Homo sapiens: one gene and its partners. The protein of the gene in region 1 purifies or fractionates together with the protein of each later gene. This does not show direct contact. Each region holds a gene or a part of one and is shown in the gene's direction. Other genes may lie near its edges.

The links.
Region 2: the proteins of CEBPG (region 1) and NUCB2 purify together in Homo sapiens (affinity purification with mass spectrometry; one large-scale study listed by BioGRID and IntAct). This does not show direct contact.
Region 3: the proteins of CEBPG (region 1) and KIF5A purify together in Homo sapiens (affinity purification with mass spectrometry; one large-scale study listed by BioGRID and IntAct). This does not show direct contact.
Region 4: the proteins of CEBPG (region 1) and PPP1R7 fractionate together in Homo sapiens (co-fractionation; one large-scale study listed by BioGRID). This does not show direct contact.

What each region holds. Positions count from the first base shown.
Region 1 is NC_000019.10:33,379,948-33,387,629, forward strand, and holds the end of CEBPG (CCAAT/enhancer-binding protein gamma), read left to right. Parts: 3' UTR 1-2,739; downstream 2,740-7,682. Other genes in the region: PEPD (xaa-Pro dipeptidase), read right to left, coding at 7,397-7,534. UniProt on the Homo sapiens protein: Transcription factor that binds to the promoter and the enhancer regions of target genes. Binds to the enhancer element PRE-I (positive regulatory element-I) of the IL-4 gene. Binds to the promoter and the enhancer of the immunoglobulin heavy chain.
Region 2 is NC_000011.10:17,291,683-17,299,625, forward strand, and holds part of NUCB2 (nucleobindin-2 isoform 1 preproprotein), read left to right. Parts: intron 1-3,641; coding exon 3,642-3,785; intron 3,786-4,421; coding exon 4,422-4,529; intron 4,530-7,943. UniProt on the Homo sapiens protein: Calcium-binding protein which may have a role in calcium homeostasis. Acts as a non-receptor guanine nucleotide exchange factor which binds to and activates guanine nucleotide-binding protein (G-protein) alpha subunit GNAI3.
Region 3 is NC_000012.12:57,583,559-57,590,162, forward strand, and holds the end of KIF5A (kinesin heavy chain isoform 5A), read left to right. Parts: intron 1-659; 3' UTR 660-3,075; downstream 3,076-6,604. UniProt on the Homo sapiens protein: Microtubule-dependent motor required for slow axonal transport of neurofilament proteins (NFH, NFM and NFL). Can induce formation of neurite-like membrane protrusions in non-neuronal cells in a ZFYVE27-dependent manner.
Region 4 is NC_000002.12:241,169,295-241,177,237, forward strand, and holds part of PPP1R7 (protein phosphatase 1 regulatory subunit 7), read left to right. Parts: intron 1-486; coding exon 487-573; intron 574-7,943. UniProt on the Homo sapiens protein: Regulatory subunit of protein phosphatase 1.

The sequences.
Region 1 (7,682 bases):
AAATATCTGGGATCCCGATGTTCTTAATAAATCCTGACTTCCCAAGAAATGCTTCTTTTTTAAGTTGACAAAAGGAATGGGGAACTGGCAGGCCGCGCAGAAGGTTCTTGGTTTTAATGGATAGGCTGAATTGGATTAAGAAAAGTTGAATGCCACCTATGGTAATCTATTTGTGATTTTCTTCTAAATTATGTATTATAAATTCGTAGAGCTATAGAAAGCAATGAGTGTGTAATTTGGAGTGATTTTATATATGGCATAAACTTTGTTTTAACATAATTAGTACTGTTTTCCCCCAAAAGTACAAGTTTTTGAGTAGCAATGTCAGGTTAAGTAAAGAAACTTCATCACATCTTATAGGTAGTGTGTGGCCAATTGACTTAAAAAATACAAATAACATTTAGGAAGCAAATAGATTAAACACAAAAATAAAACTAAAGCATAGGAATTATGTTTTTGAGATACCTTTGGGCTTAGATTGGCATTGTTTTATTCTAAAAACCCAACTCAGTGGTGTAGAGAAACTTGTGTACCAAAATTTTAGTTTCTGCAGATGCTAGTGTTTTTTTGGATACAATTTTGACAACCAAGTTAGTAAACAAAATATCTTAACAGTTTGATGACACAAGCTACTGATGAGGGTTTGGAATATTAATTCAGAAGGTAGTTTCTCTTGTGTTCAAAATAGCTGCCATGGGGCTGTTACTTTTAAAGTCAAAATTTTCTTCTGAAGGCTCATTTTGGTATTTGATCTTAACCAAGTGATTATTAGAGAAATGTATCAACTCCATGCCATCTCCCAAAATAATTGTCTAAGAAAACTTGAAAGTGTAAGGTTTTAACCTTTAATTTATTTCTCTTAAATACATCTTTTGATATTGTTGTTGTGACATTTCTTTTTCTGGTTAGTGGGCTTTCCAGACTTTGTACCACTGCTTCTGTTTATTCATTTATATGCTTTTGTGTCCCATAAATTATTTCAGAAAATGCTGATAAAACTCAGGATATTGACATTTTTGTTGAGACTAAAAAATGGCAGTCGCTAAAGTAGGGACTCTAGAGTCTGGCTTACGTCAGTGTTGGTAGTTTAGATTGTCTTTGTCAACGTTTTTTCTTCTCTCTTTTGCTTTCTTTTCTTTCTCTTTTTTTCTTAGCACAGTTCTAGCTCAAATTTGTGTATTTTTTGTGTGCCTGGGCTGGAGATGAGAGACTGAGTCATAACTGATTTAAAAGTTTGTGTTATCAGGTATCTTATTTGAACATGGTCATTTTTGGCCACATTGCTGTTTCATACTAGGACTTGGGATGATGTAGCCAGAATAAAACTCAAGTTGCACCCTCCGGTTGGTGGAAGATTGCTGACCGTGCCGTTTCTGGGCAGGAGAAGACATCATGGTGTCCAGCAACTCAGCAAAGCCATTCTTAAGAGTCGTGAGGTCCTTCTGAATGTAAAACTGGAGCCCAGGAGAAGCTGTCCCAGGAGGGCTGTTAACTCCCTATAGAGCCAGGAGACAGGATAGGGGTTTCTAGGGTCCAACACCAGCTTACCTTGGAGTATGAATCTACCCATGAAGGATGAGAGATGTTTTGAAAAACTAGCCAGGACACACCCACAGGATCCTACTGGCTCCTTAGCAGCTGATTGGTGTTACATAATTAACTTAATTGGAGATGCATTAGGTCACTTGAATGTATAAGCAAGCACCTATGGTAGGCGCTACAGACATTTAAATCTCTTGGGAATTCGATGCTCCCATGGAATTTATACCAGTTATATGAATTGACTTAAGTATCTTGAAAAAGAAACTTTAGAGAAAGCATCAGGGGTGTGTACTCAGTATTTCAAATCAGAACACAAGATTGGAACTTTTGGAAAAATGGGTTCAAGCTTTCCTATTAGCCATGGAAATGCAAAGTTTAGCAGAAGCAAGCAATTAGGCAGAGAACAAAAATGTTAAGCATGGTGTTGTCTATCTTATTGAAGTGGTTGGAAATGAAAGCTTTTAATTTGATAGATTTATCAGTATAAAATTAGGGAAACCACGTGTGGGGAATGAATCAATTTAGAGCTTCGGGAATTGTGAGGTGACTTTTGTAACTTTTGTTCTGTGTGTGACCTGTGAACCACTAGGATGTGATCTGCCCTTGTGGGCAGGTCCAGCATAGTTAGGAGTTAGGCTTTAGCATAAATTTCTAGCTGCATCTGAGTCTCCTGGGATGGGTGCTCTTTGGCTGGTTTTGGCTGCGGATGGTGAGATCAGAGCAGCTCTTCCTGCTGCTGGCCCCTGCAATCAGTTGTTGGGATGCCAGTGCAGATCACTAAGTAGTAAGATTTTAATCAAACACGACCAGGTCCGAAATGCAGGTCATGAGTGTGAAATTCTCAAATTTACATAAAAAGTAGAAGTATAGACAGTTTAACATTTGGTATTAAAGGAGAGGAAATTGTAGCAGCTTTTCACGTTTCCCAGTCCCCATTAGAGGGCTTGAGACCTTGTACCTGAACAACCCATTTTGCACTCAGTGCTTTCTGATGCCTTAGGAGAATTGTTTTGTTTCACAAAAGCTGGGAAGGAAGAAGTCCATTCTGCAGCTGTTAGATCTGCCTCTCAGGAAAAAGTACTAACTTGTTCTTTTTGTTCCTGGCTTTCATCAGTTTGTGAGATTTCTCTATTTTTTTTAAATATAATTTTATTTCTTTCAACAAATATAAAATAAAAAACAACTTTGGAACAATGACTTGTCTTTCATCGTGGCTTTCTTTATATTAGATACCAAAAAGCAGTCCAGATGTTAAACAGCTGGGAAGCCCAGGCAGGTGCCTTGCTGTCTTTCCTGTTCCCACACTGGACGGCTGGGGGTAGGGGTGGGGAAAGTGGGGAGACAGGCAGAGGTATTTGTGTCCAAGTCTAGATCTCCCCGTTTGCCCTTAGTGGATAGGAAAATAGTTTTCTCTGAACATGGGATACATCTTTAGTTATATTTTTAGTCACTTGGTCTAAACTAAAAATTATACCAGAATAGGGAAAGGAATAACTGAATAAATGGGTTCCCGCTTAATCACCTAGTGTCTCAGAACATGGTTTCCATTTAGAGAGGGAAGAAATTCTTATGTTTCGAGATAGATAGTCAAGAATTTAAAGTAAGGCCTTTCCCCATCTGGAGTTTTGTAGTACATGTGGACACTGTCCTCATTTACGTCATAGAGTGTCTGTAGAGATGAATTTGCTGATTTCATAAACTGTTGAGTCCAGGGAGCTGATGTGAATTGAATATTTCAAGGGAATGCCATTTAAATGCTTTTCTTCTCTGATGCCTCAATTATTTTCATGTCTTGGGAAATAAATCTCTGCTTGCTGCATCTTAATGAAAAGTGGAGGTCAGGAATTATTTCTATGGGAAGTGTGGCCCGTTTCACTTTTTTGAATTAGTTGTGATTTAGAATCCAATAACGTGTCTTGGGGAATTTTACCGAGTGATGACATCTTTGTGAGGGGGGCCGGTCTTTTTCTGACAAAAGCACTTTTAGACCAGCTCATCCACTGCCTGTGCCTAGCCAGAGAGTTCATAAGCGTTTTACAGTTTTACATACATTCAGAGAACACCATTGCCTAGGTATTCTTTTACTGCAGTATCCCACTCCTCACAGAGCTCTAGGCCTGAAAGCTGTATAGAGGCATCTAGAGAAATGGGGGTTATAGAATTGGACTTGGAAAAGGAATAGGATTGTCAGTGAAACAGTCACGCGTTACACTTTTTGCAGCCCAAACGCCACCTCTTGTCCCTCCCTGTAAAGAAGCTGTTAAAACCAGATGCGCTTCCACATCGCCACCTTTCACTTCCACCTTCTAAATGGAGCTCCGGTACCTGTCTGCTTCACCCACCCCGACCCCCATGCAGAGCCATCCTCTTCGCTTGCCTGGACTTGGTGACTGGCTCCTCGTTGGTGTTCCTGGATGGCAGCGTCACTGCCTGCTCTCCAGAACCATCTGTTGCTCCCCATTGCACCCGGGGTGAGACTCAGTCTCCTTGTGTCGTGGCGTTTCCCCTCATCAACTTAATTTCCCTCCATCCTCCTGTGTCACTCTACTTCGGCTCTAGGGCTTTTCCAAGCTCTTTTCTGCCCTTCCTGGGACAGCTCCTTCTGTCTGGAATGAAGCATCTCCTCTGGCTTTTCACTAACAAGTTCCCTCTCTGTCTCAGCCCCCTGGCTGTCTACGCTAAGCCTATCCTGTTGCTTGCTTCATGGCACTTTGCAGTGTTTGAGACAATATATTTGTTCATGCTGGTTTGAGGTGAAGGCCTCGCAGCAGACTAGAGGCTCTGGAAGGAGGGGTCATGTTTGTATCCTGCACTGGCAGAGTAGATGCTCAATTATGTATTGAATGAATACCTAGACACTGAGTTTCAGAAGGGTTGTAGCACACTATACAGCTTTCTGGCGGGGTCTCTAATGGATTTCTGAAGCTACATGAATTTCTGCAGAGGTTAGAAGAGACAGAGTTAGGTACAAACATGGGGGTAGCGGAGGTAGCTACTGGGGCCCTCTAGACCTGTGCTTCCAAAGAATGCCCTTTGAGACAGGTGGAGACTCACGCCTGTAATCCTAGCACTTTGGGAGGCCAAGGCAGGAGGATTGCTTGAGGCCGGGAGTTCCAAGACCAACTTGGCCAACATAGCAAACTCCTGTCTCTATTTATTAAAAAAAAAATTTTTTTTTTAAAGAGCACCCTTTGACCTACTGGCTCAGGAAAAACGTGACCTCTCTGTTCCTAGTGACCCTCTGAAAAGTGTTTAGATAGAAATAAGAGATTTCTCCTTGCTCCTTTTTGTTCACTTCTTGATAATCAGAGATGTTTATGTGGAACGGGCAGCTTTGGTATGGAATGTCTGAAAGGAAGGAGAAAGATGTATGGTGCACTCAGCTCTGTTTCTCAATTAACAGAACTAAACTGTCCATTTTGAGCTTCATCCTGACTTTGAGTGGTTTTATCCTGAAAGTGGTGGAAATTAAAGCCCTGTACACCAGACTGTGTCTGTCACAGGGGAACAGGGGTGGAGAAGTGCTTGGTGAACTCTTCAACTTTCCTTACACTCAGAAGATACTTTTTTTTTTTTTTTTTTTTTTTTTTTAAGAGACAGGGTCTTGCTCTGTTGCCCAGGCTGGAGCGCAGTGGTGCGATCATAGTTCACTGCAGCCTTGAACTGGGCTCAAGCGATTCTCCCACCTTAGCCTCCAGGGTAGGTGGGACTATAGGCGTGTGCCACCACGCCCAGCTAGTTTTTTATTTTTACTTTTTTTAAGAGACGGGATCTCCCTATGTTGGCCCAGGCTGGTCTTGAACTCCCAGCCTCAGACGATCCTTCAGCCTTGGCCTCCCAAGGCATGAGCCACTGCGCCTGGCTAAAAAGACATAATTGCTACTGCTCAATGTCACAGATGGATAGCTTAGGGAATGTATCTGTACCAGCAGAAAACCTTAAAGAATGGATGTTATAAATCTAAGAAGCAGATAAGATAAATGGTGATTTGGAACTGAAATTGGCTTTTATTTTAATGTGACCACTTTATAAGCACTTCTGTGTTATTACCATAGGAAGAAATCAGTTTGTATTAAACTCTTTGGTGACTTTTTTTTTTTTAAAAAGGCAGTCTTGCTTTGTTGCCCAGGGTGGAGTGCAGTAGCATGATCTTGGCTCACCGCAACCTCTGCCTCCTGGGTTCAAGAGATTCTCCTGCCTCAGCCTCCGGAGTAGCTCGGATTACAGGTGTGTGCCACTACGCCCAGCTAATTTTGGCATTTTTAATAGAGATGAAGTTTTGCCATGTTGGCCAGGCAGGTCTCAAACTCCTGACCTCAAGTGATCAAAGTGCTGGAATTACAGGCGTGAGCCACTGTGCTGGCCTTTGGTGACTTCTGAAAACGTCTCTTAAGCTACAGTTTTCCACCCCCTCATCCTCATGGTTTCATCTGTGGCATCCTTCTCACTTGTCATCTTTCACCTTGGCTTGGGAACTCTTGGATGGGAGCTCTGTGAGAAGGCAAACCTGGAATGGTGTACAGAATTCTAGAAACCAGCTCCAGGGGTGGGCTGTTCTGCGGGACCCTGGGAGAACTGGACAAGCAGAGGCAAGGACAGATACTTCACCAGGCATGGCTGGGCCCTGGCTGGCTTCCTGCCTGGTAGAATTTGTTCAAGGACTACACTTAGGGAGGACAAGCGGTCTCTGCAAATTGGCTGTGGCGCTGCCTTCGTTGGCAGTGTCTCCGACAGATGCTGGCTTTGGCTAGTGTGTCCCACATGAAAAAGAAATCAAGGACAAGAGATCCCTGCAAGTCTCAGGTTTTAAATATCTGCAGCTCAAGCGCTACATGATTCTACCACCTTCAGAAATCTAGTTTGGAGGCAGTGACCGTATCAGAAAGACTTGTGTTAAATCAGTCCGCCCTTTAACTTGCGCAAAGGCATGGCGCGGGGTGACTTGGCCAGTCTGACCTGAGTGCCTAGGATCTTCCTGCAGCGTTGCTTGCCCCACCTCAAACCTCGGGCTGCGCTGGTACTGACAAGCTAAAACCACCTTGCCTAGGAGTACTTCTCACACTTGTCTGTCAGGAGCATCTGGCGGGCGCTTGTGAAATACACAATTCCTGGGCCATTGCCCCTAGACGTTGGGTCAGATGGTCTGTGGGGGTCCCAGGAATCTCTTACCAAATGCCCCAGTGGTTCTGATGCCTGTTAGGCTTGGGAAACCTTGCAGCAAGTGACAGGGTGACACCAGAGCCCCGAGTCCCAGGGGCTCAAAGCAGGCTCCTCGGGGAGGACTCTGCCCTTGTCCCGCCAGGCCAGTCTGAGGCAGAAGCAGCCGTTAGAGGGCCTGTGCTGCCAGCACCATCTTCCTGGAACTGACTTGATACTGACACCAGGTGAGCCATCTTTTCAGGGTGCACGGGGTCCCAAATGCTCATCTGCAAAGGAATAAAGGGGAAGCCACGCACAAAGGACCATTTTAGGAAACCTTTTATTGCAAATGCCATTCTGCATATTGATTTTTGACAGAAAGTATCAGAAATGCTTCTTTCCTGGGAAAAGGAATATAAATGACAGCAAGACACATTTTAGTTGCTACTAAAGAACAGCATTATTTTCAATCATTTTAAGTCGCTCATTTAATAAGCAAGGTATAAAACAGATTAAAGGTGGGAGCCTGCAAAAGGGTAATTAAAAAAGTGTTTCCTCCCCGGGAAACAGCACTGTTTGGTCTGATCAAATGCCGAAGCTGGGATCTGATTCTGGGTGCCGTCTCTCGCTACTGGAGTGCTGACCAGCAGGCTGCCCATCACGAAAAGAGGTTGCAAGGCCAGGCCCCCAGGTGCGCTGGGATTTCTGGCTGGCTCTACTTGGGGCCAGAGAAGGGGGTAAAGGCCTTGTCACAGCCTGCCATGCATGCTTCAATCTCTTCCACAGTGCGGGGCACGCAGGTCAGCAGCTCTATGCCGCTGTCAGTCACCACGACGTCCTCCTCGATGCGGACCTGGGTCAAGCCGACAGACACACATTATCATAGAGCAGCCTCATGTGCCAGGCTAGAGGGCCGGGCCCATTCCAGGCCCACCCCACCATGGGATGGGAGCAGCTGACACTCCCTGGGAGACGGGTGGCCTCCGGGCTCCTTCATGGAG
Region 2 (7,943 bases), on another chromosome or scaffold:
GTCTGACAATCTCTAAACCTGAAATCAAGGAGGAGCTTTGTTTCTGCTTCCACAGAAGCAAATTCTCAGTTTGATCAGAGAGGATAATGTTCCATATTTTGTTTCCAAAGTGTGAAACTTTCCTGGCTTTACATCATTTTTATTGTGTCTAGATATGAACTTTCTTTGCTAGTTCATTTTCCTTGTTGTTAATCTTTGTATCTCAGCAACCAGGCCTGCTATTTGCTTTACCAACATAATTTTAAGCTGGCTGAGTAAGCAATATTTAGTTTAAAGGCATTTACAAGTCATATAACTTAATCATTTTAAATGAATGGTGTGAATACAAGCAGCTTTTCTTTTTTTTTAATTTTATTTCTGTTTAGTATTTCTGATTACGTAACAGGAAAGATCTGTACTAAAAAGAATAAATAGATAATAGAATTTAAGTACTTAAGTAATACTAAGTTCAAGTTAAATTCTCTTATTTAAAATTTTTTTTATTTTTATAAATGAGGGAACTGAAGTGGGAAAAGTTAATTGGCTAACCTGTGATCATATAGCAAGTAAGTGGTGCAGCTGTAACTAGAATATAGATCTAAATTTAGTTCTGCCTTACTGCTTGGTGTAAAACCCACTTTCTATTTCTCCTTTTTTCCCACTTTCTATTTTTTAAAGATCCAAGTTTACCTTTGAGATGAGCATTCTCTTTCTGTCTCATTGTAGGTGAGGTTGGTAAATAATAGAGCAAAGGGAGGCAGTATGTTCTAGGGCAGTGGTTTTCAAATGTTGGCATGTATCAGAATCACCTATAGGGCTTATTAAAACAGATTGTGAGGCCCCCTACACCCAGAGTCTCTGATTTAGAAAATATGGAGTAGGCCTTGAGAATTCGCATTTCTAACAAATTCCCAGGTGATGCCAGTGCTGCTGGCCCAGGGACCATACTTTTGAGAACCACTCCTGAAAAGCCAACAAAGGCTTTGGAGTCAGTCACTCCCAGGTCTACACTCTAGCTGTATGACTGACTGCTGTGTGAACTAGAAGTGATATGTCTCAGTTTCTTGTACTTTGAAATGGGGATAATAATATTGACTTCACAGAGTCATTGTAAGAGTTGATGCGTTAATATATTTTAAAAGTTTAGCATACTGCTTGGTACATAGTAAACATTCAATAGATGGTTTCTGTTGTTATTTATAATAAGCATGGGGATCAATTAAATCTTTAGGAACCATAAATTCAGTTAGTGTTTTAAAGCAGTTTCTCAGAAACTTTTTGTGACTTTGTCACTTCAAGATGTTGTCAGCGGCTAGGTGCAGTGGCTCATGCCTGTAATTTCAGCACTTTGGGAGGCTGAGCTGGGTGGATCATCTGAGGTCAGGAGTTCGAGACCAGCCTGGCCAACATGGTGAAACCCCAGCTCTACCAAAAATACAAAAATTAGCTGGGCGTGGTGGTGGGTACCTGTAGTCCCAGCTACTCGGGAGGCTGAGGCAGGAGAATCGCTTGAACCCGGGAGGCAGAGGTTGCAGTGAGCCGAGATCGGGCCATTGCACTCTAGCCTGGGCGATAGAGCAAGACTCTGTCTCAAAAAAAAAAAAAAAAAAAGATGTTGTCAGGTGTTGTTAGGACATACACACACACACTCATGTATACAAACACATTCTCTTGACTTTCCTTCTTATTTATGGTAGTCTTGGCAGGAGAGGAAGAGAGCAGCAGAAGTGACAAAAACACGTGGAAGATATGGAAAAATTAGAACCCTCATTTATAGGTGGTGAGAATGTAAAATGATATAGCTGCTTTAGAAAACAGTTTGGCAGTTCCTCAAAAAGTTAAACTTAGAGTTACCAAACTGACTCAGCAATTCTACTCCTAGTTATATAACCAAAAGAATTGAAAACCTGTTAACAAAGTAACTTAAACACAAATGTTTACTGAAGTATTATTCAAAACTGCCTGAAAGAAACAATCCAAATGTCCATCAGTTCATGAATGGATAAACAAATATGGCATATGTATACAATGGACTATCTATTCAGCTATAAAAAAGAAATAAAGTCCTGATACTTGTTACAATGTTGTTGGACCTGGAAACATACTGCTAAGTGATAAAAGGCAGACACAAAAGGCTACATATTGTATAATTCCATTTATATGAAATGCCCAGAATAGGCAAATCTATACAGATAGAAAGTAGATTAGTGGTTGCCAGGGGATGGGAAAAAAGGGTAACAGTGAGTGACTGATAATGGGTATGGGGTTTCTTTTTGAGATGATGAAAATGTTTTAAAATTAGATAGTAGAGATGGTTGCACAGCCTTGTGAATATTCTAGAAAACACTGAATAGTATAATTTAAAACATTTTATGCCTTATGAGTTATATCTCAAAAAACCCAAAATGCACACCTATGTATGTGTGGACAAGAAGCATGAATGAATAATAAACCTTTTTTGTTATTAAAAGTAATTGTGGGGAAGAGGAGGTGATTCATAGTGAGAAGACATTCTGTGAAGTATACTACCCTATTAGAGATTCTAGTATCCTAGAGATGAGTGGATCTCAGGTTTTAGTATACATAGGAACCCCCTGGAACCCCCTGTTTGTTAAAACAGGTTCCTGGCCCCCACCCCAGAGGTCTTGGGTACAGCCTGAGAATTTGCATTTCTGATCTGCTTTCAGATGATCTTGTAAGATTTTGTAAGATTGAGAACTAAACTTTGGGTAGCATCTTTATAGATTAGACATATGCTGTACTTAAATGGGTGAATTTTATGACGTGAAGTATATCTCAATAAAGATGCTAAAAAATTGGCATAAAGATAGTAAAATGTAAGTTTTAGTGGTTTGTTAATGGCAAGACAATGCTCTGTAAGGGAATTGGTTTAATTATTAATTTCTTCATTTGTAAAATGTGTCACTCTCCTGTGTATGTACCACCTAGGGTTGTGGTGAAAATGGGGTTATGTGTTCTTTTCCAAATGGTGTTCTGTGGGTAAAACGTGTTGCCTTAAAAAAAAAAAAAAAAAAAAAAAGCCATGGCTAGATTGAAGCTTTTGTAATTAGCCAAATGTTTTCTTATACTATAAAAACAATATAGGCCGGGCACAGTGGCTCACGCCTGTAATCTTTGCACTTTGGGAGGCCAAGGCGGGCGGATCACCTGAGGTCAGGAGTTCGAGACCAGCCTGACCAAAAGAGAGAAACCCCCGTCTCTACTAAAAATACAAAATTAGCCAGGTGTGATGGCACATGCCTGTAATCCGAGCTGCTTGGGAGGCTGAGGCAGGAGAATCGCTTGAACCCAGGAGGCAGAGGTTGGGGTGAGCAGTGATCGTACCATTGCACTCCAGCCTGGGCAACAAGAGTGAAACTCTGTCTCAAACAAACAAACAAACAAACAAAAACAGTTTAAAATATTGTATTCTGTCTTTTTAATTTTGGCTACAAAAACATTTCTCCCTTGATTTTCTTTAGTGATCTATTTTAAGCATTATTTTTGACAAGTTTTAATCTATTCTTTCCTTTCCTATAATTTTTTTTTTGTTTTATTAAACCTCTTGAGATTAAATATATGATTAATGTGACATTCGGAATGCATGTATATAGAGTTAAAACATTATTCATGACTTTACCATAATTACTCCTTTATTTCAGATGAGGTGGAGGACCATCCTGCTACAGTATTGCTTTCTCTTGATTACATGTTTACTTACTGCTCTTGAAGCTGTGCCTATTGACATAGACAAGACAAAAGTACAAAATATTCACCCTGTGGAAAGTGCGAAGATAGAACCACCAGTAAGTGAAATGAAGTGAAATGGGAGGAATTATAACTAAATGAAATGAATTATAATTGTAACTAAATGAGGTGGAATGAGGTGAAACTATAACTAAATGAAATGAGAGGAATTATAACAAAAATATTGCTAATATTTATTACTTATAAAATTGTACACTTGGGAACTATTTCTGAAATAGCAGTGAAAAGAGTATTGGCCAAGCATATGCTGTTTACCATTACACAATATTTATTTAATATAGTTAGTATATTAGATAGAAGAATTAATCGTAATACATTTCCAACACAGACCTGACTAGCCAAGAAAACACTGTATTATATTCAAAGCAGAGGCAGATAACAATGGGGAGAAACCAAAGTGGTAAAATCTTCATTGTCTGAACTATATAGAAAATCTACTGGACTAGAGAGTGTCGTAAAAAAGAAAAATCTACCTTTAAGTAACAATAAAAGATGATATTGGTTCTGATATAAAACTATTTATTTCAGAAATATAGCTTTTCACTTTGTTGAAACTATCAAAGTAAATATGTCTTAATGCCATTTTGCTAGAAATTGTTTCACAGGATTGACCTCTTTAGATTCAAACAAGGAAAAACCTGCAGAAGCATTACTGTTGGTTTCTTAATTTGAAGGATACTGGACTTTATTATGATGAATATCTCAAGCAAGTGATTGATGTGCTGGAAACAGATAAACACTTCAGAGAAAAGCTCCAGAAAGCAGACATAGAGGAAATAAAGGTAAATGCAATTCAATAATATATACATATATGTATCTTAATTTAAAATTTTTTTAGAGATGAGGTCTCACCATATAACCCAGGTTGGCCTTGAGCTCCTGGGCTCTAGTGATCCTCCCACCTCAGTCTCTCCAGTAGTTGGGACTACAGGTGCGTGCCACCATGCTTGGCTTAAATATTTAACAAACATTTGCACGTGCCAGGCACTGAGCTAAGTACCAGAAATACAAAGATGAGATTTATTCCCAGCCCTTAAGGAACCCTCAAGGGAAAATCATATCCAGAAATAGATTATAGGATGGATTATATGATGAGTATTTAATCTAGAAATACAGAAGGCAGACACATAATCTAATATGAAGCAGTGGGGCGAGGTGGGAAGTTATTCTTCCTAATAGAGATTATGCCAGAGCTTAAAGATGTAGTGAGAAAAGGAGAGGTACTGGGAGGCATCCTAGACAAAGGTGCAATGGTACAGAGGCAAGAAGTATATGGGAAACTGGAAGCAGTAACTGTGGCTAGACCCCAGAATGGGAAATGGAGGCCTGAGTGGCCAAAAGATGAGGTTTGGAAAGAATCACAGTCTCGTTGACAGAGGGCCTGTATATCATGTTAAGGGGTTTGGGTCATTATCTGAGGACAGTAGGAAGTTATTCAAAAGTTTGGAATAGGTGAGGTCCTGGTGTTTTAATCAGGTCCAGATTAACAGAAGAGATAATGGGCTATGTATTATATCAATCAGAGAGGTTTAACCATTTGACTCTGTCCTGAGAACCCTATTTGACATAATTCCAGCCATAGTCAGCTCTTCAGTACTCATAATAAGAAAGGGGGTTGTAAAGATCTGACATGAGAGATTCTTGTAAAGTCTTTCCTTAAAAGGAAATGAATCAGTTTAGCTGGGTTTATCTTAGACTCAGTGAGTAAAAAAAAATCCAGTTAATTTTAAAATTCCAATAATGTCTCCTAAGATAATTTTGTTTGCTTATGTTACCTTTATTTATTTAAGTTTTACTTTCTTAAAAAATTACGTTGCTTTTTTTCTAGAATCAGAATAAGAGAACTGTGTTTGAAAGACTCATTCTGGGTCAAACAAACCTTTTATTTTAGTTTCTGTTCTTGGTGTGAACTTCTTTGAAAGACTGACTCCCGTTAGGTTGTGGTGTCTGTCAGCGCTCAGGTGTGGCATTTAGTTCGCAGCTCTCCTCTTGGAAGTTGTGAACTTTTCTGGGGAAAAGGTAATAGTGTTATGCTAATAATTCCCCGGAATTGTCTTTGAGGATAATCCTACTCTTCTTCTGAAGGATTAATTCGATCTGTGGAACAAGTTTCCTATGGTGAATATATCTGATGTAGAACTCTTAATGTCTTGTATCAGGAGTAAGAACGTTATTTGGGGTGACATAGAAAATGTGGATCATGGGAGATACTACATAGAGATATTCAGGCAAAAGAAGAAAATAAGCTTCCTGGATTGGTGCAGGGAATACTTTTATAACTATCTTCCTTTCACATTCAATTCCTGTTTCTATGAAGGGTTAGGGGGAACCAAAATGAAGTTAAACAGTTACACAATAAAAAAGAAATGAGGGTCCGTGTGTGGTGGCTCACGCCTGTAATCTCAGCACTTTGGGAGGCTGAGGCAGGTGGATCATGAGGTCAGGAGTTCAAGACTAGCCTGGCCAAGATGGTGAAACCCTGTCTCTACTAAAAATACAAAAATTAGCCGGGTGTGGTGGCAGGCACCTGTAATCCCAGCCACTCGGGAGGCTGAGGCAGGAGAATTGCTTGAACCTGGGCGGCAGAGGTTGCAGTGAGCCGAGATTGTTCCACTGCACTTCAGCCTGGGCAACAGAGTGAGACTTCGTCTCAAAAAAAAAAAAAAAAAAAAAGGGGGGCCGGGGCAGTAGTTCACACGTGTAACTTTGGGAGACTAAAGCAAGAGGATGGCTTCTAGCCAGTAGTTTGAGACCAGCCTGAGCAACATAGCGAGACCCTGTCACTACAAAAAATTAAAATTTAAAATTAATTTAATTAAAAATTATCCTTCAAATTAAAAAAAAAATCATCTGAGGCCAGGCACAGTGGCTCACATTTGTAATCCCAGCAGTTTGAGAAGCCAAGGCGGGAGGATCACTTGATCCCAGGAATTCAAGAACAGCCTAGGCAACATAGTGAAACCCCTATCTCTACCAAAAATAGAAAAAATTAGCTAGATGTGGTGGTGTGTGCCTGTAGTCCCAGCTGCTCAGAAAGCTGAGGTGGGAGGATCACTCGAGCCCAGGAGTTTGAGGTTGCAGTGAGCCATGATTATATGACTGTACTCTAGCCCGCATGACACAGAGCGAGACCTCATCTCTTAAAAAAGAAAAAAAAATGAGTAAAACTAGACAATAAAACGCAAACCAATAGAATCATCACAAATAGCCAAGCAAAGACTTCTGTTTCATAAAAAACTGACAAAAAAAAAAGTTAGAATTTTCTCTTTCCTTTTTTTTTTTGTTTTGGGACAAGGTCTCACTCTGTCACCCAGGCTGGAGTACAGTGATGCAATCTTGGCTCACTGCTACCTCTGCCTCCCAGGGTCAAGTGATCCTCCCACCTCAGCCTCCCAAGTAGCTGGGATTACAGGTGTGGGCCACCTTGTCTGGCTAATTTTTGTATTTTTAGTAGAGATGGGGTTTTGCCATGTTGTCCAGGCTGGTCTCAAACTCCTGACCTCAAATGATCCCCCTGCCTTGGCCTCCCAAAGTGCTGGGATTATAGGCGTGAGCCACCATGCCCGGCCTCTCTTTCCTTTTCAGCTAAGCATTTTGAAAGGAGAATCATATTACATTTCTTCACTTCCCAAACATTCCCTAACTGGAAAGGTGATGGTACTGCCCTCACTGTTCCACTGAATATACCTTCATGGAGGGCATCCATGACTTCTTAATTGCCAAATCTAGTGAACATCCTAACATCTTTGATTCCTCATTCTACTGGGCTCCTTTATTTCTCTCAATAGTTTTTAGATTTCAGGGTTTGTTAAAACATATTGCTGTTTCCTACCTTCGGGGTGTCCAATTCAGTAACTCTAGAGCCTGCATTTCTGAAGTTCCCTGGTGATGCTGATGCTTCCAGTTGGGGACTACATTTTGACAACCATTGTTTTATCTAATAATAATGACTATTCTCTCCTTGAAATATACTGCTCTTTTTGATTCTGTAACAGTATATTCTCCTAGTTTTCCTACTAATTACTCATCTATGAAGAAAGTAATCAAAAGAGACCTAAAAAAGATAAATTTTGAAAAGCTTTTATATATGGAATGACTAATGCTTATAGAGGCCCACTGACTTTTAACTTAATTTAAATGTTCTTTTTTGCCCTAATGGTGCTGACCAACTTAACTTTTTAAAAAAATAACAAGCC
Region 3 (6,604 bases), on another chromosome or scaffold:
AGACCCTAGGGGGCCATCTCAACCCCACCTCTTCCTCCACCCTGAAATAATTTTGGATGGATAGGTGTTTTTGGAACTAAGACATCTCCAGTTAAGGCGATGTTTGCTTCACGCCTGCACCTGTGTCCCATCCTCTTCCCATCTGTATATGCCACCAGTAAGCTTTAGGAAACGCCCCACGAAATCAGTCAGCGCTCCCCTCCCATCTTGCTCAGTGGAGGTGGCAAAGCCCCTCTTTTTCCTCCTCTGTCCCCAGGTGCTCTCCTCTAGCAGCACAGGAACCTTCTTTGTTCTTGTGTGTCACTGGGTTTCTCACCAAGGTTGCTTTAGGGCCCAGAAGTGGCACAGAGAACATGGCCAGTCTCTTACTGGGCTGCATCTAAGCTGAGCCCTCTCCAGGGGTTTCCCAGAATAGTAAACCAGGCACACACAGGCAGAAAAGTCTGAGAAGCAGAGAAGTAGGAATGCAGAAGAGGAGTTGGGGAGACCTAGGGGTGGAGGTGCAAGCCTGGGTCACGGGGGGCGGTGGTAGGGGGGTCTGCTTGTTGGTATTAAAGGAACAGGACAGTAAACCAAAGTGTGTGCAGATGCCACCTGTTCCTGTTCTGTGACTGAGCTACAAGCTGGGCCCTCACACCCTCTTTCTCTTTCTTTCCCAGTTTCTAAGAGGGACTGAGGCCTCTTCTCAGCATGCTGCAAACCTGTGGTCTCTGATACTAACTCCCTCCCCAACCCCTGTTGTTGGACTGTACTATGTTTGATGTCTTCTCTTACTTACTCTGTATCTCTTTGTACTCTGTATCTATATATCAAAAGCTGCTGCTATGTCTCTCTTCTGTCTTATTCTCAAGTATCTACTGATGTATTTAGCAATTTCAAAGCATAGTCTACCTTCCTTATTTGGGGCAATAGGGAGGAGGGTGAATGTTTCTTCTTTCTCATCTACTCGTCTCACACTGAGTGGTGTTAGTCACTGAGTAGAGGTCACAGAGATGACAAAAGGAAAAATGGGAGCTAGAGGGTTGTGACCCTTCATACACACACGCACGCACGCACACAAACATGCACACACGCATGCACACACACAAAGCCTTAAGCAGAAGAATGTCTTAGCATCATGAGACAGAGAAATAGACTCTTCCTCCCTCCTCTTTCACATATAGCACAGGGGAAGGTAAAATGGAAGGGCTGCTAATTGAGACATATAATTTTCTTCATACACCCCTCACCTTAATCAAAGGATTCAGGTGTTACTTCTGCCCTACAAAGTCTGCCTTTTGCCTCCCTCTTCCTGTTTTCCCCTGGACTGAGAAATGGGTTGCTCAAGGGACCATTTCCCTTTTTCTTCAAGCTCCTTTTGATATTCCCTGCCCCAGAGCTCATGACCAGAACCCAGAGCTGATTTAAAATATTTTGAAAAATGGAGGAGGCAGACTGCTCCCAGCAGCCTGTCAATGGCTGCTCATCTGTCCATGGAGATGGTTACAGGCAGGTGTAGTCAAAATGATTGATTCCTTGGGTTTGGGGGTGAATAGGCTGGGAAATTTCTGAGCCTTTTTTTTTTGTCACAGTGCCCTCAAGTTGAAGTGATGAGCTGGATTTCTTTCTTGTTCCATACTGGGCGGCATGCTCCTCCCATCTCCACCCCTTGGTTTGGGGGCTTCCAGCTCATTGGCAAAATCTCTCTAGTTGCCTTCCTTTCAAGCTGGAGCCTGACTTTTCCCCAATGTACATTTTTTTTTTCTCCACAAAGAGTTCCTTCTCTAATGTCCCCATCTGGTATTAAGTGCACTTTAAAGAAAGGGGCAGGGTGGATTTTCAAGAGGTGGGAAGCTCTAAGGCTTGACCCTGAGGGGTCTTCTCCCAGCCATTCTCAGCCCATATGCAGCACCCTCCATACTGAAGAGGACTGTTGTTTTAGTTTCAGACGGTCCTTTCCTTCCACATGGTGCTAAGGTGGTTTTCTAGGTAACTGCAGGGATGGAGGTCACTAGCCATTCCAAACCAGGAGAGAAAGTCTGGTGTCCTGATATCCAGTCTTTTCTAGGAGGAAGACCAAGATTCTCCAGCGGCAGGGCAGCCTATCACCCAACTTCTAAGTCAGGAAAGGAAGCTGAGTGGGAATGCCAGCTGGTAAGCGCAGGCTGCACTGGCCCATGACTCCTTCAAGGAAAAGAGGCCCTGCTCCCTTTACCTGCTGAGCTCCTTTTAGCAGTTAGGGAGAACTGCAGGGGGAAAAATACCAGTGGAGTGTGGAATAAATCCAAAGCAGTGATTTTTAAATGTTTTTCAAAAACAAATCTTACATAGAACCCCAATATAAAAAATAAAGTAATGCAGACCTGGGCAGTTTGCATTTTTTTTTTTTTTTTTTTTTGGTGGAAGAAGTCTCAGCGTCTCTTAGGACTGACTGTTCAAAGGCTCCTCAGCAAATGAGCCCTTGAACAGTCCTAAGAGACCCTGAGGATTCTGTGGAGTAGTTTGAAAACCATTGTTCTGAGGAAGGGGGTCCAATCTGGCTCCTCTGCACTAAAGCTGCAACTCATGGAAAAGAGGGCAACGGTGGGGTAGACAAGCCATGCTGTCTCCAGACCCACTAGGGTGGAAGGAAGGTTCCTGTGGGCCTGTGGACTTAGGCTAATATTTGCTGTCAGCAGGGCACTTAAGAATCCAGGGGGTTTTATGTAATGTTGCCACCACATGGTTCTTTTAAAAACACATAAGGAAATGTGAGGGTGTAGCGCAGATGAGGAGAGAGATGACACAGAGGGAGCAGCCTTCTCTTTAGCAAGATGTAAGGGAAATATAATTCACTTACATAAAAAAGAAACAACACACACGCAAACCCTTCACCAGAAGCTTCACACTACATCCTCCTCCTCCTCCTGCTCCCCACCTTCACCGCATCCCTTTCAGAGCCAGGGTCACTGCAAGGGGCACCTGGCCTGCCCACTCACATCTGCCAAAATGTTGCATGCCAGCGTGGAAGACAAACCAAACTGCGCAACCCCCTGTGTGTATTTACTTGGTGTACATAGATAACTTTAAAATAAAATAAATTCAATGATAACTCTATGTTGTTGTAAATATTCTTTATCCCTTCCCAATCTCACTGCCTTCTTTGGATGAAATGGAACTTGATAGAATATATCCTTCCAGATGTTTTTCTATAGATTTACATAAGGCTTGATTTTTTTCCTACTTGACAATATATCCTGGAGATCTTTGTATGTCAATATATATCAATTGACCTCATTAAAATATAATTTTTCACATATTTATCCTACAGTTCATTCAACCAGTCTACGACTGGTGGATATCTATACTGTTTGTAATTTTTACCAAAAGCACTATCTTGTTCTTTCATTTTTGACCCAGAGCAGTCTCAGTCCTGGCATCAATTCCTTCCCACTCCAGTGTTTCACCATCTCTCCACAGCCAACAGATCAATATTCCTGTCCCAGGATCATCCACTACAATCACCCTTCCAACCCCCATTTTAAAGCATACTCCACCTCTCTTCTCTGCTCATATCTCAAAGCTTCTCAGATGGAGAAAACTGCACACCCAAAAAACTGGGGCAAGTAAAACTGAAGAGCCTACAAACCTGCCCGGACTTTCGGTGCTTCTCACTTTCCTCTCCTATCTCCCAGAGCAAGGGTCTACACCCTTTCCACCCTCCTCTGTCAGGCAACAACTTTGTCATCTAAGGCACTTGAGCCTGAAATTCTTTTATCTTGCCCCCTGCCCACATGCACCTACACAATTACCTATCTGTGTCTGCACTTATCCTTTCCTTCTCCCTTCTGACCAGTGATAAATCTCCTTTCTCTGGGCTAAAGTGAATCCCTTCTAGATATTTCATTCTTGAGATACTGATATAGAATCTCAATATACAAATATATAACATATCTAAAACTGATAAACTGATGGAGACTTGAGGAGTTTGCATCTTTTTTTTTTTTTTAAAACAGAGTCTCGCTCTGTTGCCCAGGCTGGAGTGCAGCGGCACAATCTCGGCTCACAGCAACCTCCGCCTCTCAGGTTCAAGCAATTCTCCTGCTTCAGCCTCCTGAGTATCTGGGACTACATGTGCACACCACCATGCCCGGCTAATTTTTGCATTTTTAATGGAGATGGGTTTTCACCATGTTGGCCAGGCTTGTCTCAAACTCCTGGCCTCAAGTGATCCGCCCGCCTCGGTGCATCTTCTTTATTAATGCCTGTCTCAGTGGTCTCATCTCCTTGTAAGGTCCTTCCCATAAGAGTCCCTCCCTTTACTGTGTGTTTCTCTAACTGTGTGTTTCTCTATCTTACTTGTTTTCTTAAAGTCAGATATCCAGAAACCATCCCAAGCTTCCCATCCCCACTTCCTCACCCCCTATTCATTCCTTAGCCCACCTTGATCTGCCTCTTGTTCTGCTCAAAACTGCTTTTCCAAATGGCATTAGTTACCAAATACAGTGGACATTTCTTCTGGACAACAGTCCTTGTTTTGCTTCACCTCTCCATGACATATACTTCTTCACTCCTTCCTTCTTGAAACTCAACTCCCCTTGGCTTTTGTGACCCTGCTGTCTTGGCTCCCTGTACTTCCCTGGCCACCCTTCCGAGTCTTCCTCCCCAGGCCTCTTAAATGCTGCTCTATCCCAGGGCTCAGCCCTTGGTTCCTTCCTTGCTCTTTCTAAGACATGTCATCCATGCCTGCAGATTCCACAATTCTTCAATCCGTATCCCCAGTCCAGAACATTCTGCTCAGCTGCGGGAGCATGTGTCCAGCTGACCTCAGATGCCTCAAACATGTTCCAAACCGAACTCACCTTCCTCTGAATCTGCTCCTTTTCATGTCACCATCATCTCTCTGATATCATCATCATCATTAGCCAGAAGCCTTAGACTCACTCTCAATGCCTCCCTTTTCCTTCAATCCCCACATTCATATGAATTTTCCAAGTTGACATCAAACTGCATCTTTAGATGCCACCCTCTTCTTTCAAACACAACAGCCACTGCTTTAGTTCATTATCTCTCCCTGAACTTTTGCAATACTCAAGTCATCCTCCAGGAACATGCCTGAGTGATCCTTTTTTTTTTTTTTTTGAGATGGAGTCTTGCTCTGTTGCCCACGCTGGAGTGCAGTGGCAGGATCTCGGCTCACTGCAACCTTGGCACCCCCCCTCCCCCAGTTCAAGCGATTCTCCTGCCTCAGCCTCCTGAGTAGCTGGGATTACAGGTGTGCGCCACCACGCCCGGCTAAATTTTGTATTTTTAGTTGAGATGGGGTTTCACCATGTTGGTCAAGCTGGTCTCGAACTCCTTGTAGGGTCCAGACCTACTGGGCTTAGCGGGTGTTCTCCCTGTGTGCGGAGACGAGAGATTGTAAGAAATAAAGACACAAGACAAAGAGATAAAGAGAAAACAGCTAGGCCTGGGGACCACTGCCACCAAGACGCGGAGACCGATAGTGGCCCCTAATGGCTAGGCGCACTGGTATTTATTGAATACAAGACAAGGGGCAGGGTAAGGAGGGGTGAGTTGTCCAAGTGATTGATAAGGTCAAGCAAATCACGTGATCATGGGATAGGGGTCCCTTCCCTTTTAGGTAGCCAAAGCAGAGAGGGAAGGCAGCATACGTCAGCATTTTCTTCTATGCACTTATAAGAAAGATCAAAGACTAAGATTTTCACTATTTCTTCTACCGCTATCTACTAAGAACTTCAAAGAGGAACCAGGAGTACAGGAGGAACATGAAAGTGGACAAGGAGCGTGACCACTGAAGCACAGCACCAAAGGGAGGGGTTTAGGCCTCTGGATGACTGCAGGCAGGCCTAGATAATATCCAGCCTCCCACAAGAAGCTGGTGGAGCAGAGTGTTCCCTGACTCCTCCACGGAAAGGGAGACTCCCTTTCGCGGTCCGCTAAGCAACAGGTGCCTTCCCAGGCACTGGTGTTACCGCTTGACCAGGGAGCCCTCAAATGGCCCTTATGCGGGCGTGACAGAGGGCTCACTTCTTGCCTTCTAGGTCACTTCTCACAATGTCCCTTCAGCACCTGACCCTATACCTGCCGGTTATTCCTAGGTTATATTAGTAATGCCACAAAGAGTAATATTAAAAGCTAATGATTTATAATGTTTATACTGATGATTGATAATTGTCCATGATCATCTCTATATCTAATTTGTATTGTAACTACTCTTTATTCTAACTATTTTCTTTATTATACTGCAACAGTTTGTGCCTTCAGTCTCTTGCCTTGGCACCTGGGTAATCCTTTGCCCACAACTCCTGACCTCAGGTGATCCTCCCGACTCGGCCCCGCAAAGTGCTGGGATTATAGGCGTGAGCTACCGCATCTGGCTTTTTTTTTTTTTTTTTTTTTTTGAGACAGAGTCTTGCTCTGTCGCCCAGGCTGGAGTGCAATGGCATGATCTGGGCTCACTGCAACCTCTGCCTCCTGGGTTCAAGCGATTCTCCTGCCTCAGCCTCTCAAGTAGCTGGGACTACAGGCACCTGCCAACATGCCCGGCTTTTTTTTTTTTTTTTTTGAGATGGAGTCTCACTCTGTCACCCAGGCTGGAGTGCAGTGGCGTGATCTCTGCTTG
Region 4 (7,943 bases), on another chromosome or scaffold:
GATTCTTAGCCCCACTGAGCCCCAAGTTCCTCATCCCTAAATGAAGAGAGGAACTTTGTTTTGAAGATTACTTGGTCGTACATTTCCTCGTGATGAGCACTAAGTAAATGTTTCTACAATTGTCAGCCTTTCTTCAGAGCGTCAGGGGGTTACTCGGTTCTTCCTGGGACCATCAGTCTCACTAGGTCTGTCTCAATGGACAGGGATCTGGGAGGACTGGGCTTGGAGTCTGACACAGTCTCAAATTCCAGCGATCAGGAGAGCTCAGGGAGATAGCTGGGCAGGCTCTGATGGAAACACTGTCCCAGGGAGGGCTGCAGGAAGCAAGCAGGTCTCGTCACCCTCCATAGCATGCCCTTACCCTGTGAGGGCAGAGAGGGCAGTGCACCTGCAGCCCTAAGGTCAGCACTTGACACTGCCTGCGTGGTCATGCAAATCACTGTTGATCAGAGGTAATCCAGGAAACATTTTATTTCCTTCTTTTAGAACAAACTCACGATGTTGGACATTGCATCAAATAGAATCAAAAAGATTGAAAATATCAGCCATCTAACAGAGCTGCAAGAGTTCTGGGTAAGTTTAATACACGCTGGGGTTGATGACACTTTGACTAAACTGGTCTCACTGATTAAAATGTCTTATGAATGAATACAAGAATCTCCTGTAAGCCTTCATGCTGAGTGACTCCGCACATCATGAGATTTGGGGTGGGCGCTCTTGTAGACTTGTATTGGGTGTTGTCTGTGCTCCTCAGCGTGAGCCACAGATCAGCAGCATTGACATAGCTTGTTAGAAATGCAAAATCTTGGGCCCCACCATAGCCCAGATGAAAACTGAGTCAAAATCTTTGCTTTACAAGACTCCGGGTGATTGCAGTACACACAAAGGTTGGAGAAGCCCTGATCTAGGTATGGGTAGAACCTACAATTGTCATTTGACCAAATGGTTTGCAAACCTCAGCAGAGAGGCAGACGCATTCCCTACAGATATATTCCAGCACAACAGAAGGAAATGTTGGATGGGTTTCTGCAGTTAGTCATCTTGGAATTTGCCTTGTATTTGTCTTGTCACAGGTATGGTTTCAGGAGTAGTGTTGTGGAGTCAGCAGGAAGAGAAACAGAATATAAGAAGTTTTTGCAGTTCCTCTAAAGGGGTTGGGAAATGATCCCCGAGTGGAAGTCTTCAGTGCTAGGATTCCCTTAGAGAAATCTCCTAAGGTTTATTGCCTTTCCGCTAGCACGTGGCCCTGCAGAGACTGCGGCACAGGTGTCACCCTGTGATGCTGGGAATGTAGTAGTGTCCTCAGATACATTCAGTCTAATCCAGGATTCATGCTGAGTGTAAGGCATCATTCTTCCTTGTCTCTCCTCTAGCCGTGCTGCTGACCCTGCTTATGTCCTGTGCTTTCTCCTTTCCCCACTTTAAAAGGTCATCCAAGTTTCCCTAGAACACAGGTGGCCTGCTGCAAATGTTCCTTGCCCCTTATTAGTGGCACTGGGTCTTGAGTAGTGTCATGATGGGATACCAGAGCATGTCTGGGAAGATCAGAGCCAGAATTTGGCAGGTGATAAAGATGTACCAGGCCAGGGGGAGCCTCAATGAGTCCAGGTGGGTCTATGTGCAGCCCACCCTTGAAGGAAGGTGTGGCTGGTGGTAGGCTGGTTGAATTAGTGCATAGGGAGTTGGCAAAGAAGCCAGGGAACAACACAAAGAAACCAAACAACAGGAATAAGGAGTCCAGAGACAGAGGACCAGGTGATAGGGAAAGGGCACCTGGCAAAAAATTAGGGAGCAGGTTTGGGAAACGAGCTGATACTGAAGCAATGTTCCTGAAGCGTAACGATTCCTTCTGCATGCCCTGCCTAGGAACAGAGCATGGGGCACAGAGTGCTGAGACCACAGGCAGGGGCCAACCTGGGTACCACAGCTAGCAGGGAGGCAGGCAGGCTGGTGATCAATCACTAGGGGCCAGGTAGTGCCTGACCCTGTAACACAGAAGAATCCTGTTCCTTAGGCCACCAAAGATAGTAAAAAATAGCCAGAATTTGCACAGCGCTTTATGGTGTCCATACCTCTCTCCATTCTGATCCAATTATCACAGCAACCATGTGGATAAGGTCATATTACCCCATTTTACAGGTAAAGAATTGCATTCCAGGAAGGAAAGCTGCAAACCAGGAATTCTCAAACTCAGTTCCATGCTCATATCACATTTGAGAGGCACATCATTCATCTCTAAGGCAGAAATAGAAAACCAGTCTTAACAAGTTTCTGATAACCCACATACTATGTTTGTTGATTTTTCTGCCTATTTGTTCCAATTACTGAGAGGAGAATGTTGAAACCTTCCAACTATAATTGTCAATGGATCCATTTCTCCTTTCAGTTCCATCAGTTTTTGTTTCTTGTATTTTGAAAGTCTGTTATCAGGTGCATACATATTTAGAATTGAGGAATTCTTGATGAATTGATCCATTTATCATATGAAATGTTCTTCTTTCTTGCTTATCCTCTTTATCCTTGTCCTGGAAGGGTATCTTGTCTGTTATTAACACAGCCCCTTCATCTGTCTTATGATTAGCGCTCTCATGGAATCTTTCTCCATCCATTTCCTCTTAACCCATGCCTTTATAATTAAAATGTGTTTTTCATAAAAAGTATGTAACTAGATCTTGCTTTCTTCTCCAGTCTGAGAATCTCTGCCTTTTAAGTGGTGTCTTTAGACTGCTTACATTTAATATAATTACATTTAATTACATTTTGTGTAATGGTTGAGTTTAAGTCTATCATCTTAGTATTTGTTTTTTATTTGTCTCATCTATTCTTTGTTTACTCTTTCCTACCTACTTTTTGGAGTGACTTTTTTTTTTTTGCAGTCTATTTTAACTCTATTATTGGCTTATTTGCTATACCTCTGTATTAGTGTTTTCTTGTTGATTGTTTGGAGGGAGGGTTGTTTTAGCGATTAGAATTTAAAAATACATTTTTAATTTTCACCATCTATATATTTTACATTTAAATATCTTACGATCCCCATGATACCTTATCTTTTAAAGAAATTTAAAAATGGCCAGGCGCAGTGGCTCATGCCTGTAATCCTAGCACTTTGGGAGGCCAAGGCAGGTGGATCACCTGAGATCAGGAGTTTGAGACCAGCCTGGCCAACGTGGTGAAACCCTGTCTCTACTAAAAATGCAAAACTTAGCTGGGCATGGTGGCACATGCTGTAGTCCAAGCTACTCAGGAGGCTAAGGCACGACAATCACTTGAACCTGGCAAGTGGAGATTGCAGTGGGCCAAGATCGTGCCACTGCACTCCAGCCTGGGCAAAAAAGTGAAACTCCGTCTCAAAAAAAAAAAAAAAGAAATTTAAAAACAAGAAAACTCACTTATTTTACCTTTTCTGGCATTGTTTATTCTTTCGTGTGGATCTGAGTTTCCACTTGGTATTTCCCTTCCACCTGAAGAATTCTATTGTTTTGTCGTGCATTCTGCAGTAAACCAATCCTTCACTTTGATTTGTTTGAAAAATCTATTTAATTTGCCTGCATTTTTGGAATTTAATATTATGGATACACAATTCTAGCTTGAGAGATTTTTTTTTCCTTTTTAAGTACATTAAATACTTTGTTCTTTCATCCTCTGGTTTGCATTATTTCTCCTTTATAAAATTTTTATTATTTTAAAAATATTTTTTAAAAATAAATAGAGATGGGGCCAGACACGGTGGCTCACACCTGTAATCCCAAGGTGGATCACTTCAGGTCAGGAGTTTGAGACCAACCTGACCAACATGGCGAAACCCCGTCTCAACTAAAAATTCAAAAATTAGCTGGGCGTGGTGGCACGTGCCTGTAGTCCCAGCTACTGGGGAGGCTGAGACAGGAGAATCGCTTGAATCCAGGAGGCAGAGGTTGCAGTGAGCCAAGATCATGCCACTGTAGTCCAACTTGGGCAACAGAGCAAGACTTTCTCAAAAAAAAAAAAAAAAAAAAAAAAGGACGGGATCTTGCCATGTTGCCCAGACTGGTCTCGAACTCCTGAGCTCAGACAGTCCTCCTGCCTCAGCCTCCCAAAGGGCTGGGAGTACAGGTGTGAGCCACCACACACGGCCCTGGTTTGCATTATTTCTAATAAGAAGCCAGCAGTCATTTTTATCTTTTTTCCTCTGGCTGCTTTTTAATGTTCTTTTTAATCATTGTTTCTTATTTTGTTTTGTTTTTTGCAACTTGAATATAGCGTGCCATGGTGTAGTTTATTTTCTGTGATGTGTCAGGGTTAACTGGGTCTGTGAATCTATGGTCTTCATCAAATGTGGAAAGCTTCTGGAGACTATTTTCTCTAAAACTGCTTCTGCCCTTGCTCCTCACCCCGGTTTCTCTCTGAAAACCCAGTTATGCATGTTCCCCTGGCACTAGCGAGGCCCCTGAGGCCATTGCCTCCACCCTGCTCCACCCCTTGGGCTTTCATCTTGCTGTGCTTGTTTGTATAATTTCTGTTGTTAAATCTTCAAGATCATGATCTTATCATCTGTAGTAGCCTATCTGCTGTTAAGCCCATGTCATGAATTTTTTATTTCAGATACTGTATTTTTCTCAACTCTAAAAGAACATTTGGCTTTATTTTTTTTTTTTTGGTAGATTATTTTTCTCTCTTCATTAGATTCATGTTTTCCTTTAAGTCCTTCCTTCTTCACGTCTTGTAATTTTTTATTAGATCCTGGGCTTTATGGTGTTCAATTGTTGAATGTCTGGAATTTATGTTGTTTTCCTTCAAAACATACTGAACTTTATCTGACAGGCAATTAAGTTACAGCTTGATCCTTTTGAGGCTTGTTTTTAAGCTTTATTAGAGTACATCTAAATAGTCTACTCCGTAAGATTAATCTAGCACTGTTTTGAAGCTGTGGCCCTCCTAGGATCTCTGGTGAATATCCTGTGTATTTAAGTTCTCTCCACTGTGGTTGACGGGAACACAAACATGGACCTGCTATGGGTGAGCTCTGGGCATTCTGCATCTTGGGGCTGCTTAGTAGTTCTTCGACCAGCCTTTAGCTTTTCACTCTGCCTAGCACAGCTTCATCTTCAGTCCAGGATTCCACAGGATACCATGTGGATTTCTGGAGGCTTTTTCCCTACATAGCTCACTCCTATCTATACATTCCAGCTCCCTTTGCCTCCCCAAACTACAATCACCATCTCAACTCTGTGTGGCCACCAGGCTCTGCTTGGGTTCCGCCTCCTTGTGGTCCTGAAAGTTCCTCCAGGCAGAAGGCCGGGATGATCACACCACCCACCTCATTTGTTTCCTGTCTCTCAAGAATCACTATCTGTGTTGCCTGTTGTCTGATGTATAAAAACAATTATTTCATATATTTTATCCTCTTTTTTTTTTTTTTGAGATAGAGTCTTGCTCTGTCGCCCAGGCTGGAGTGCAGTGGCGCGATCTCAGCTCACTGCAAGCTCCGCCTCCTGGGTTCACACCATTCTCCTGCCTCAGTCTCCTGAGTAGCTGGGACTACCGGTGCCCGCCACCACGCCTGGCTAATTTTTTTTGTATTTTAGTAGAGACAGGGTTTCACTGTGTTAGCCAGGACAGTCTCCATCTCCTGACCTCATGATCCGCCCGCCTTGGCCTCCCCAGGTGCTGGGATTACAGGTGTGAGCCACCGCGCCCGGCCTATTCTATCCTATTTTCTAGTAGCTTGTGACAAAGGCAGGAGCTCAGCACCAGCTATTCTGTCATGGCTTGAAACAGAAGTCCTACTTATTTATCTTACTTTTGTGTCTGTCTCCCCCACTGTATAATACAAACCTCATAAGGGCAGGGAAATTAGTGTTTGGTTTACTTTGTTTTCCCTCCCAATTTCTTTATTGTGGTAAAACATGCATAAAATAAAACTCACCATCTTAACCATGTGGAAGTGTACAGTGAGTGGTATTCAGCACATTCGTAATGGTGCACAGCCATCACCACCGTCCATCTCCAGGACTCTTTTCAACTTATAAAACTGGAACTCTGTACCCATTAAACAATAACTCCCTATTTTCCCCTTCCCAGACCTTGACAATGACCCTTCTACTTTCTGTCTCTATGAATTTAACTACAGACCTCATATCACTGGAATCATGCAGTATTTATTTTTGTGACTGGCTTACTTCACTCAGCATATTGACCTGAAGATTCACCCATTCTGTAAGCATGTGTCAGAATTGCCTTTCTTTTTAGGGCCAAATAATATTCCGCAGTATGGATATTGTTTTGTTCACTCTTATCTCACCAGCATCTGGAATAGTGCCTGATACACTTTTTTCTTTTGAGACAGAGTCTTGTTCTGTCACCCAGGCTAGAGTGCAGTAGCATGATCATGGCTCACTGAAGCCTTGGCCTCCTGAGTTCAAGTGATCCTCCCACCTCAGCCTCCCAAGTAGCTGGGACTGCAGGTGTGCACCAATGACCTGGCTACATTTGTGGGTTTTTTGTTTTGTTTCGTTTTTTGTTTTTTTGAGATGGAGTTTTGCTCTTGTCACCCAGGCTGGAGTGCAATGGCACAATCTCACTGCAGCCTCCGCTTTCCAGGTTCAAACGATTCTCCTGCCTCAGCCTCTCAGTAGCTGGGATTACAGGTGAATGCCACCACGCCTGGCTAATTTTTGCATTTTTAGCAGAGACGGGGTTTCACCATGTTGGCCAGGATGGTCTCAAACTCCTGACCTCAGGTAATCCGCCCACCTCGGCTTCCCAAAGTGCTGGGATTACAGGAGTGAGCCACTATGTCTGGACCATTTTAAAATCTTTTGTAGAGACAAGGTCTCACTGTGGTGTCCAGGCTGGTCTCAAACTCCTGAACTCAAGCAATCCTCCTGCCTGGGCCTCCCAAAGTGCTGGGATTACAGGTGTGAGCCACCATGCCCAGTCAGTGCCTGAAACATATTTGAATGAGCAGAAGGAACATAGAAAAGGCTGGCCAACTGGGTGGAGGCCAGCTACAGATAACATTGGAAAATATGTTATCCACATGTGTCAGATGCAGGGCTAACATCCTTACATTAAAAACAGCTCACACCCAGGTACCACTTGAAAACTAGGGTGTTCACAGAGCAAGAAGTAACAGTTGCTTGTAAATACATAAAGCATTTCCTATCTCATTAATTTTTTTTTCTTTCTTTTTTTTTTTTTTGAGATGGAGCTTTGCTCCTGTCGTCCAGGCTAGAGTGTAGTGGCACGATCTCGGCTCACTGCAACCTCCACCTCCCGGGTTCAAGTGATTCTCCTGCCTCAGCCTCCCAAGTAGTTGGGATTACAGGTGGCTGCCACCACCATGCCTGGCTAATTTTTGTATTTTTAGTAGAGACGGGGTTTTGCCATGTTGGCCAGGCTGGTCTTGAACTCCTGGCCTCCAGTGATCTGCCTGCCTCGGCTTCCCAAAGTGTTGGGATTACAGGCGTGAGCCACTGTGCCTGGCCATATCTCATTAACTTTTAAAATCTACTAAAACAGTGAGATACAGTGTTATCTGTCAGGTTGGTGAAGACTCATAGAATGCAGCTGCAACCAGCCTGTGATGGCAGCAGGCACTCTCGTGACTACGGAGATAGCTGTGTTTCATACAAGTTTTCTGTAGGGCATTTAGAGCCTTAAAAATACCACATGCAGCTGGGCACGGTGGCTCACACCTGTCATCCCAGCACTTTGGGAGGCTGAGACGGGTGGGTCACCTAAGGTCAGGAGTTTGAGACTAGTCTAACCAATATGGTGAAACCCCATCTCTACTAAAAATACAAAAATGAGCCAGGCGTGGCGGCATGCACCTATAGTCTCAGCTACTGGAGAGGCTGAGACAGGAGAATTGCTTGAACCCAGGAGGCGGAGGTTGCAGTGAGCCAAGATCGTGCCACTGCACGATCAGGTCAGGAGATCGAGACCATCCTAGCCAACATGGT